4 separate regions of the Homo sapiens genome follow, and regions 2, 3 and 4 are each linked to region 1. The links come from fine-mapping of genetic effects on gene expression. A gene starts in region 1. Each other region holds a variant in brackets. All regions are shown on one strand. Distances are from middle to middle. Region 1 holds the start of ADRB1 (adrenoceptor beta 1). Region 2 has its middle 41 kb from the start of ADRB1. Region 3 overlaps LOC124902554 (a long non-coding RNA gene). Region 4 has its middle 53 kb from the start of ADRB1.

Region 1 (2,685 bases):
TCTCAGAGTTTTGAGAATCTGGGAACTTGGGCAAAGGAGAAAACAAGCACGCAGACCAAGGAATCTGAAATCGCAGTTCATTACGTCAGCATAAACTGACAGTACCTTTTTGTTTGTATTGACCCAGCTCAAATTATAAAATCACATGAGTAATAAAACACAAAATACAGGTGTTATCATTGAAAAGTCTAAAATGTAATTAAACGCGTTTTTTCCCCCTCGCGGTGGTATCGTTTACTCTGTATCTCAACGTTTCTGTCTCCCTAAGCCTCTCCTTTCATATCATGAGCATACATTTTTGCATCATGCTCACACGTTCATTAGCTAGGACTGAGGAGTGTGTACGATTCCAAAGGGCCCTCAGCGTTAGCTGTTAGATGCACAAACCTTCGCTTCCTTTCCACATCTACTGCACTCGAGGTTCAACAGAGGATCCTTGCAAGAACAGCGCCCAGAGAGCATTCTTGACAGATGCGCGCTTGGCTCCAGCAACCCGCTCTGCTGGGAAGTTTCTTCTAACCACTAACACCCACCTCCAATCCCCCAAGCTGTCACGACGCATGCTGGCTGGGTCCCGTCTTGACGGGGGAAGGGTTTTACACACACCCTGCTAGGCTGCCCCACATCACAACCAAGCTCGCAGGGCAAACTCCTCCAAGCCTGGCGGACAAGCTGTCCCAGGCGCTCTGGCGCTTCCTGAACACCAAGGTCCCCTCCCCGCTCAAGGGAGCTAGCGCTCTGTTCCGCAGAGAACCCCGGAACTGCAGGTCGAGGGGATGCGGGGGGAGCGGGGGCGCAGGAGGGAGCCGAGTGCTGGAGGCAAACGGGGCGCAGGAGCGGGTGCGGGAGGCAAACGGGGCGCAGGAGCGGGTGCGGGAGGCAAACGGGGCGCAGGAGTGGGTGCGGGAGCGAGTGGGGGCTGAGGGAGGGGACGGGGCCCCGGGGGGAGCCAGGCGCGGAAGGGGGCGCGGGGGAACAGGGACCAGGAACCAGCGGGCGCAGGAAGGGGTGCGTCCGCAGGAACCCGCGGGCGCACGGGAGGCACTAGCTACGCGATCAGCTCGGGACTCTCAGGAGCCGCTCAATTGCCAACGGGAGGGGGGTGCGGGGAGTTGGAGGTGGGGGTGCAGACCAGACGGGGGCGTGCCTTTGCCCGGATTGGCTGCAGGAGCCTGACGCGAGGCCCCGGGGGTTGGCTTGGGGAGTGGGAGCGGGGTGGGGTGGGTGCTGGGTGCCGGAGCTGCGGGCCCGGCGCGCTCAGAAACATGCTGAAGTCCCGGCGGCTCTTCCAGCAGCGGCAGCGGCTCCAGCAGCAGCGGCGGCGGCGGCGGCGGCGGCAGCGGCAGCGACAGCGCTCGGCTCCTGCGGGAAAGGCGCCCGGCGCCCATGCCTCCGGCCCCGCGCCGCGGCTGCCCTGACCCGGCCGCGACCTCCCTCTGCGCACCACGCCGCCCGGGCTTCTGGGGTGTTCCCCAACCACGGCCCAGCCCTGCCACACCCCCCGCCCCCGGCCTCCGCAGCTCGGCATGGGCGCGGGGGTGCTCGTCCTGGGCGCCTCCGAGCCCGGTAACCTGTCGTCGGCCGCACCGCTCCCCGACGGCGCGGCCACCGCGGCGCGGCTGCTGGTGCCCGCGTCGCCGCCCGCCTCGTTGCTGCCTCCCGCCAGCGAAAGCCCCGAGCCGCTGTCTCAGCAGTGGACAGCGGGCATGGGTCTGCTGATGGCGCTCATCGTGCTGCTCATCGTGGCGGGCAATGTGCTGGTGATCGTGGCCATCGCCAAGACGCCGCGGCTGCAGACGCTCACCAACCTCTTCATCATGTCCCTGGCCAGCGCCGACCTGGTCATGGGGCTGCTGGTGGTGCCGTTCGGGGCCACCATCGTGGTGTGGGGCCGCTGGGAGTACGGCTCCTTCTTCTGCGAGCTGTGGACCTCAGTGGACGTGCTGTGCGTGACGGCCAGCATCGAGACCCTGTGTGTCATTGCCCTGGACCGCTACCTCGCCATCACCTCGCCCTTCCGCTACCAGAGCCTGCTGACGCGCGCGCGGGCGCGGGGCCTCGTGTGCACCGTGTGGGCCATCTCGGCCCTGGTGTCCTTCCTGCCCATCCTCATGCACTGGTGGCGGGCGGAGAGCGACGAGGCGCGCCGCTGCTACAACGACCCCAAGTGCTGCGACTTCGTCACCAACCGGGCCTACGCCATCGCCTCGTCCGTAGTCTCCTTCTACGTGCCCCTGTGCATCATGGCCTTCGTGTACCTGCGGGTGTTCCGCGAGGCCCAGAAGCAGGTGAAGAAGATCGACAGCTGCGAGCGCCGTTTCCTCGGCGGCCCAGCGCGGCCGCCCTCGCCCTCGCCCTCGCCCGTCCCCGCGCCCGCGCCGCCGCCCGGACCCCCGCGCCCCGCCGCCGCCGCCGCCACCGCCCCGCTGGCCAACGGGCGTGCGGGTAAGCGGCGGCCCTCGCGCCTCGTGGCCCTGCGCGAGCAGAAGGCGCTCAAGACGCTGGGCATCATCATGGGCGTCTTCACGCTCTGCTGGCTGCCCTTCTTCCTGGCCAACGTGGTGAAGGCCTTCCACCGCGAGCTGGTGCCCGACCGCCTCTTCGTCTTCTTCAACTGGCTGGGCTACGCCAACTCGGCCTTCAACCCCATCATCTACTGCCGCAGCCCCGACTTCCGCAAGGCCT
Region 2 (2,685 bases), 41 kb before region 1:
AATCATCTCAGTTTGCCCGAGATTGAAGGGGTTCCTGGAATGTGAGACTTTCTGTTTTAAAAGGGGGACAGTCCCAGGCCAATGGGTGAGAGTTAGTGCAACATACTACACTGCTAGAGTCAAGTAGCAGTGCCTCCAGCACATAACATCTAGCACATACATTACAAAGAAGAGAGACTTTTTCCTTCTTCTACCAAGAAAGGCACAATCTCAATTTAGGAAGTAAGTTCCCTTAAGGCACCACTGACTGGGAATATTTGAGTGTTGGATTCATCCAATGGTTGTATCCAGGCCCTCACAAAGGCCAAAGGAGAATGAAGTTGGACTGGCTGAAGATGTGTTCCCAGCTTTCCCTTTCGCACAGCAAAGCAGGCAGGTCGCTCTGAATACTATGACAACAGGCTCCAGGCAGGATGATAGTGCTGCAGAGGGCTGATGGGTACAGATGGCAGCCAGGAGGGCTCTATTACAGGAGCAGCAGCTGTCTGGGAGGGGAGGGGTGGGCACTGAGCATGCCTGCCTGCTCTTCCGCCTGGGGTCTCCATGTCACCTAACTCGAGCACTTGTCACTGGATTGGCCCATGTGGCAGCTCCTGAAAAATCGGACTCCTAACTCATCTGTGTGGTACCTACCCCACAGGGCTGTGCATCCCTCCTCAAGGCCTCTGAGTCTCATGTCTTTAAGAGTAACTTACGGGAGAGAAAAAAAGCTAACCGTGTTGCCCTGATAAAAATCACAACAGGCCACATGAGGTACTGCAGTGTGTCCCAACGCCCCATCTTCTCTATGTGAGTGATGTACAAGAGAGAAAAAAGCTAAAAGTATTTTGCCCTGATGAAAATCAGAAGAGGCCACGCAAGGTACTGCTGTGTGTCCCAGCATCCCATCTTCTCAATGCTGCTGTCGCCATTTTGGTCATGTCCCAACACTCCCTATGCTATTTTTTTTTTTTTTTTTTGAGATGGGGTTTCACTCTGTTCCCCAGGCTGGAGTGCAGTGGTGCGATCTCGGCTCACTGCAACCTCCACCTCCCAGGTTCAGGTGATTCTCATGCCTCAGCCTCTCAGTAGCTGAGATTACAGGTATGCACCACCACTCCCGGCTAATTTTTGTATCTTTAGTAGAGACGGAGTTTCACCATGTTGGCCAGGCTGGTCTCGAACTCCTGACCTCAAGTGATCTGCCCACTTCAGCCTCCCAAAGTGCTGGGATTACAGGTATGAGCCACCGTGCTTGGTTCCCTACTCTATTATTAACCCAATTTTTTTTTTTTTTCAGACAGGGTCTC[A/T]CTCTGTAGCCCAGGCTGGTCTCTGACTCCCAGACTCAAGAGATCCTCCCCACTCCACTTCCCCAGTAGCTGGGATTACAGGCGCACACCGCCACGCCCAGCTCCGGATTTCTCTTTATATTTCCTCACTTTGTAAACTCAGTTCTATTTTTTAAAAGAAATTGCATATCATCAACATAAATGAAAAACCAGTATCACTTGGCAGAAACATAACAGTCATAAAAAATTAAGTACCATGAAAGCAAAGGAGTATTATTAGATTCCTGCTTGACGTAATTTCAGATGGAAGGCTCCAAGTCTGAAGCCTGCTCTGTCTTGAATAAAAAGAGACAGTAGCAGAAGTTAAGAGATGCTATCGACATACTCATACCACATGGAGACTTTCTCCTTATTAACTGAAAAAGAATTGAAAAAGAATAGTGTTCTCACTCTGAAATTCACTGTTATTTAACCTGTGTTTTGTGCCACCGAAAGTCATCTCACAGTCAGTGGGTAATCTGATTTCACTTTAAATGTATTATCTCCAGTGGTCCTCAACATAGCCTGATAGTTTAATTCTTTCTCTTTCTAGTAAGCATATTTTCCCACTGAACAAGATACTATTCCCAAACATTTTCTCTCTTTCTACACCCCAGTTGTCAACTGCTAATCTTGCCTCACATATATTTTAAAAAATAAAAACATAGCCAGGCACGATGACTCATGCCTGTAATCTCAGCACTTTGGGATGCTGAGGCGGGTGGATCATCTGGGGTCAGGAGTTTGAGACCAGCCTGGCCAACATGGTTAAGCCCCATCTCTAATAAAGATACAAAAAATTAGCTGGACTTGGTGATGCGTGCCTGTAATCTCAGCTACTTGGGAGGCTGAGGCAGGAGAATCACTTGAACCTGGGAGGCAGAGGTTGCAGTGAGCCGAGATTGCACCACTGCCCTCCAGCCTGGGCGAGAAAGTGAGACTCCGTCTCAAAAAAAAAAAAAACACAACAAAAATTAGCCAGAAGTAACTTAAATCTGTGTGCCTGTTTGCATTGATTTGAACCTTCTCCATCCTGTCTTCTCTTACCACTGAGCAAGCGTCCATCTGCCTATCAACAGCCAAACTCTACCAACAGCCAACGGGTATCCTGGATCACCCATTCTCCCTGCCTCCTCTAGGGCTTTGCTACTATGACCATCTCCCTCCCTTCCTTCTTCCAAATTAGTGCGTAAGTATATTCATACCTGTAATCTTTCTTTTTTTTTTTTTTTTGAGATGGAGTCTCACTCCATCACTAGGCTGGAGTGCAGTGGCACGATCTCGGCTCGCTGTGACCTCCGCCTCCCAGATTCAAGTGATTCTCCTGCCTGAGCCTCCTAAGTAGCTGGGACTATAGGTGCGCACCACCACGCCCGGC
Region 3 (2,685 bases), 27 kb after region 1:
GACTACAGGCATGTGCCACCACGCCCGGCTAATTTTTGTATTTTTAGTAGAGACGGGGTTTCACCGTATTGGCCAGGCTGGTCTCGAACTCCTGACCTCATGATGTACCCGCCTTAGCCTCCCAAAGTGCTGGGATTACAGGCATGAGCCACCACGCCCGGCCCTAAATGTATTTTAAAAAATAAAGACAAGTTGAAGCTCCTTGGTTTCTTACCCTGTACTAGTCTCCTTTTTTCCTCCCCAGAGCCAGTCTCTATCATGAATTCAGTAGGTTTCCTTTACCAAGTTGTCATACCTGTTAATATATATATATATGTGTGTGTATATATGCACTATACACACATACACATGGATACATCATAGAATATTGTCTTGTTACTAATTTGTTTGTTTTTTTTTTTTGAGACAGGGTCTTGCTGTGTCCCCCGGGCTGGAGTGCAGTGGCTGGATCATCACTCACTCCAACCTCCACCTCCCCAGCTCAAGCGACCCTCCCACCCCAGCTTCCCAAGTCGCTGGGACTACAGGCACACACCCCCGACTGGCTAATTTTTTGTATCTTTTGTAGAGACAGGGTCTCACTATGTTGCCCAGGTTGATCTCAAACTTCTGAGCTCAAACCATCCACCCACCTTAGCCTCTCAAAGCTTTAGGATTACCGGTGTGAGCCACTGCACCTGGCTTTGTCTTATTATTTTTAAAATTAATTATTACTTTTAGCATATTGTAGATATTAATCCATAGCCACATCATAGTATAGGCATGAATCTACAACTTGCTATTTTTCAGCCAATCCATTTTGAAATCCATTTTTCTACATCATATGGAGACCACTAGTTTTGAGAACTTTAAAAAAGATGATTCCCACAGGGCAAATGTTCCTATTAGGTAATAAAAGATTCAGGTGATGAGTATTATGGACAAAAGGAAGACATTAACTGCACCTCACAGAGTATCATGAGGATCTCTGATTGATCAAATTAAAAAATCAAATTAAGAAGCACAACATTTTTTAAAATTGCAGTGAGTACTAATCAGCCTTGATATGTTTGTTATGGAGCTATTTTATTGAAATAAAAGTGCTTTGAAGATGAAAAGCACATTTTTTTTCTTTCCCAGAATTAAATCATTTCATCCCTCCCTCAGGCTACAAAGTTCATTCAAGTAGAAAAAAGTAAATGCTCCAGTTCTTTTCTTTTTCTTTTTTTTTCTTTTGAGATGGAGTCTCACTCTGTCACCCAGGCTGGAGTGCAGTGGCACGATCTTGGCTCACTGCAACCTCCACCTTCCCAGTTCAAGCGATTCTCCTGCCTCAGCCTCCCAAGTAGTTGGGATTACAGGTGCCTGCCACGATGCAATTTTTGTATTTTTAGTAGAGACAGGGTTTCACCATGTTGGCCAGGCTAGTCTCGAACTCCTGACCTCAAGTGATCCGCCAGCCTTGGTAGTTCTTTTCTTATGGAGTTTCAGCTGACTTATATTAAGGCTTACTTGCTTTCTCTTTTCATTTCTGACCACAGTTTGTAACTTCCCTGCACTGAAAGATACTCTTTTTCCACCCCTTAAAGCATGCAAAGTAATGGTCGGAAGGGAGGG[C/G]TCATTAACGTTTTTCATTTTTTTCCTGTGGTTTCCTCTCATTATTTCATTGCCTAGGCAATATTTTTTAAAAGACCTCATGCTGGTGAACAGAAGTTGACATAAAAGAGCATAACAACTTTTTTGGAGTCTCAAGGTCTGTGATGTAAATACCCCAATTTGTTTTTCAAAGGTTTTCATAATCCATTGTATAAATACACATATTTACATAATTTCCAAAACATGTACTTTGCAGCCACAGTCCTTCCAGCATTATCTATTAATAAGGAGTCACATGTAGATGTGGATTTGCAAGCTTGAATTCCAACACATCACTTTATCATTTTCAAATTTCGTGAGCGCTGGAACTTAGTGGGCAGACTTCCCCATCTCACTTCAAGAAAACATCTGAAGGGTGTCATCCACTTTGGAGGGAACAAGACACCCCAGTTTCGATAAACTTGACCTCTGTGGGATTATACCAGAGAGGGAACTGCTCAAACTGAGCAGAGGGAATGGGTGTCTGTAGGCACTGAACTTTAAGCTTGTCCTTCTAAGGTAACATTTGCAATTCTTTCTATGATGCACTTTTTATTTTGTCCCCTAACTTCTGACGAAGGCCATGGGTATGTCAGTGGAAGTCAATAAAGGTGGCACATAGGTCATTGGAAAAATGGAGGGTATTTTCTATATTTGAGTGGTTTTCAGTGGGCTTCTTCCACCCTTGCTTGAGGCCGAGGAGCTTAGAGAGGATGGGAGGAGTTTAGAGGTGGGGACAGGGCTGCCAACAGTTTGAATTTTGCTTAACTTTGGCTGGTTGGAAGGCAGAGCACCCAAAGGAGACCTCTTTGGGTATTTCCAGATTCCCATCTGTGGCTGAAACCAAAGAACAAGGGTACCAGAGACCCTTTGGTCAAGTCCTCTGCGACGCCTTCACAGGACATTTTACTTGGCCCTCTGTCAGTTTCTCCTAATAAAAATCCTTTTTTATTTTTTGCTTCAACAATCTAGGTCATTTGCTGGTATCTCCTAGGCTTTCCAATTCGACAGAAGGGTCTTCTCTTTACCCTCAGAGCATTTTCATTTTTTACTATATTGAATTTCTTTGGT
Region 4 (2,685 bases), 53 kb before region 1:
TTGTTCAGTTGCTTCTTTTGTTTCATGTAATGCAGGAAAATTATAAATTCACACTGATATTTATTCATTTGTAATAATTTTCCTGGATGCTTACAATGCTTTTTTTTCTTTACCCTCGAAATTCAAAAAGTTCATTAGGGTAAATCCACTGGTCTATTTAATAAATCTTGCCTGGTACTTAAAGACTCATCTCTTTTCTTTAGCAATTTAGGGTCACTCTGTTTGGTAGTGGGGTCAGAAATAATGGATTTCAGAGTGTCTGAAATCCAGGCAAGCCCCAAGCTTTTTAAATAACTGCATAAGTGAAAGGCAGTGAGATGTGATAGAAAGAACTCAGTCTGTTGAGTCAGCTCTGCAGATGATCAGCTGCGTGACCTAGGACTTGTCACCTGATTGCTCTTGGAGCCTCAGTATCCCCCATCTATAAATGGAGATAGAAAGAACTCCTTGCAGATTTGTTGTGAAGAATAAACAAGGAAACAATCAGGCCTATTATAAATCATATCTCCTCTTGTGCAATATAAGGAGAGTAATTCCTTCCCAGGCCAAGGCCATACAACTTTGGTTCGAGAAAAAAATCAAATTCTATATTGGAACTCAGAGCTGCTCTTCTTACTAAAGGTAAAGGGTCTCGGAAACATGGCTCCCTCCTTGAAGGATGGGAATATTCTAGGGGACCAGGGTGCCTGCCAAGGGTGAGAATGAACATCAGCAGATCAGACCCAGTTACAGGAGCACAAACTGCAGCCTTGGGAAGAGCAGAGGGAAAAGAAAGGCTGTTTCTCTCCTGGTCACTGACATATGCCTCTTGTCCTGTCTCGGGTGTTCCATTGTCCTTATCCCATCATGACTCCGAACCATAGACATGGTGTTGGTAGACCCAGGTGGCCCGCAGTCCAGCAGCTTTGCACCACCCAGGAGCTTGTCAGAAATGCAGAATCTCAGGTCCCACCCTGGAGCTACTGGATTAAAATCTGCATTTGAACCAGATCCTCAGGGGATTCATGTGCCTGTGAGCTTGAGAAGCTCTCGTCTAGATCACATGTTGGTCAGAACCAAAGTTTTAGGTGGCTTCTTTGTTGTCAACCAGTGATTTTATTTTCATGCCTTTGGAAAATAGCAGTGAAAGCACAGCAGAAAATTCTAGAAGAAATGAAAGTAAAGCATATAGAATTTTAAAACACAGAATAAAGTCCAGTGGTTTCTGTCTCAGCCAGTTTCATGGGAGCCAGGGAAGGGTCTGGTTCTTCTCCCTGAGGCTGCTTTAAACTGCTTCCTTGCATTTTAGCACTTGGCAGGCTCAGAATCATTCTCTTCTGTACATGTTCTAAGCCTCTCTGCCCAACCACAATGATGAGAGCACAACTGCTGAAAACCATAATTGTGGCATG[C/T]GTGGCTCCTGTGGCTCCCCCATGCCTCATTCTGAGTCCATAGATGTGGTCACAAAACAGAAATTGGAATGCAATGCCGCGGCTTCTGTGGGTGTTCTGCGGTCTCAGCCTTGATCTCTCTGGGCCCCAGGTTATCTCTCGCCTCTTCTCCAGCTACCACCTGGATGGTGAATGTGTGTCCCCAGCACTGGCCACCAGCCCCTGGCCAGGGGCAGAGGCAGAACCAGAGTAGACGCTGGATGATGACTCCAAGACTTTACGGCTACTGTCCATGCAACTTGAATTTCCAGAGAGGTAAAATAGGATGTTGTTGGAGTGGGGCCTAGGCATTTTCTGGGGCTTTCCACAGTCCGCATGTGGCTGTCTGCCTCAGCTGCGTGAGTTCAGGGAACTTGTCAGTCCTGTCCACTCTTGTATCTGTAGTACCCACTAGAATGTCTGGCATATAAGAGACACTTACTATGTACCTGAACCTAGATCACAGTGCAACAAAGAACCTGCATGATCTTAGACCAAAAGAGCGCGATATGGCTTAGTGAGAAATAAAGCTAATACCCAATCTGTTGATGGGGGCCTCTGCTGCCTTCTAGAAGAATGGCATAATTCCTCTCTGCTGCAGACTGTTGCTTCTTTCTTTCATTCTTGAGGATAAAAGTATCCTTATTGGTTTTGTGAGCCAGGTGGAGGAGGGAGGAGAGGCCTGTGAACATAGTCTGCCTGGGGAAGGGTGAGATCAGAAAGCTTGGAAGCAGGCTTGGTGCGGTGGCTGATGCCTGTAATCCCAACACTTTGGGAGGCCAAGACTGGAGAATGGCTTGAGCCCAGGAGTTTGAGTTTAGTTGTAGTTAGCTGTGGATCGTACCACTGCACTCCAGCTTAGGTGATAAAGCGAGACCCTGTCTCAAAAAATAAAAAGAAAATTTAAAAAAGGAAAAAGCTCAGAAGCAAAATAAAGTGTGAGGAATGTAAAGATTTGGGGGCAGTCTAGCAGAGACGAATGGGATAGCCAGGGAGGCTAGAGAAAATGGGAGAAAACCTGGGAACAGCAAGACCCGTTCCCAGGAACAAAAGGGGACTAGTACCACTTCAGGAGACCGAGGTCCTGGGAGGGAAAAGCACACAGAGGTCACCGCAGCGTCATGTTCTGTTGCAACTCCGCCCCATCTCCCCCAGGCCATCAGTAAAGTCGGCCAAGTGCCACAGTCTTGTAGCGGGGTGTCTTGTGGAAAGCAAGCTGCATTCGACATTTGGGTGGGTGAGAGAGAGAGGCAGGCAGAGAGAGGGGTCCAGGAAG

The links. PIP is the estimated chance that this variant, and not a neighbour inherited with it, causes the effect.
Region 2: its variant is fine-mapped to the expression of ADRB1 in skeletal muscle (GTEx, PIP 0.98).
Region 3: its variant is fine-mapped to the expression of ADRB1 in whole blood (TOPMed, PIP above 0.99). The same link has a PIP of 0.9 or more in blood mononuclear cells.
Region 4: its variant is fine-mapped to the expression of ADRB1 in whole blood (TOPMed, PIP 0.97).

Annotation. Positions count from the first base shown.
Region 1 is chr10:114,042,607-114,045,291 of GRCh38, forward strand. ADRB1 (adrenoceptor beta 1) reads left to right here and starts at 1,260. Exons shown (of 1, transcript NM_000684.3): 1 at 1,260-2,685. The coding sequence starts at 1,527. RefSeq lists an enhancer at 628-677 and silencers at 948-1,227, 1,298-1,357.
Region 2 is chr10:114,001,866-114,004,550 of GRCh38, forward strand. No RefSeq gene overlaps it. Among named protein-coding and RNA genes, the nearest start is that of ADRB1, 41 kb to the right of the region's middle. The variant A/T (reference allele first, on the strand shown) is at 1,290.
Region 3 is chr10:114,069,363-114,072,047 of GRCh38, forward strand. The region is part of intron 1 of LOC124902554 (a long non-coding RNA gene); the gene reads right to left. Among named protein-coding and RNA genes, the nearest start is that of ADRB1, 27 kb to the left of the region's middle. The variant C/G (reference allele first, on the strand shown) is at 1,597.
Region 4 is chr10:113,989,852-113,992,536 of GRCh38, forward strand. No RefSeq gene overlaps it. Among named protein-coding and RNA genes, the nearest start is that of ADRB1, 53 kb to the right of the region's middle. The variant C/T (reference allele first, on the strand shown) is at 1,392.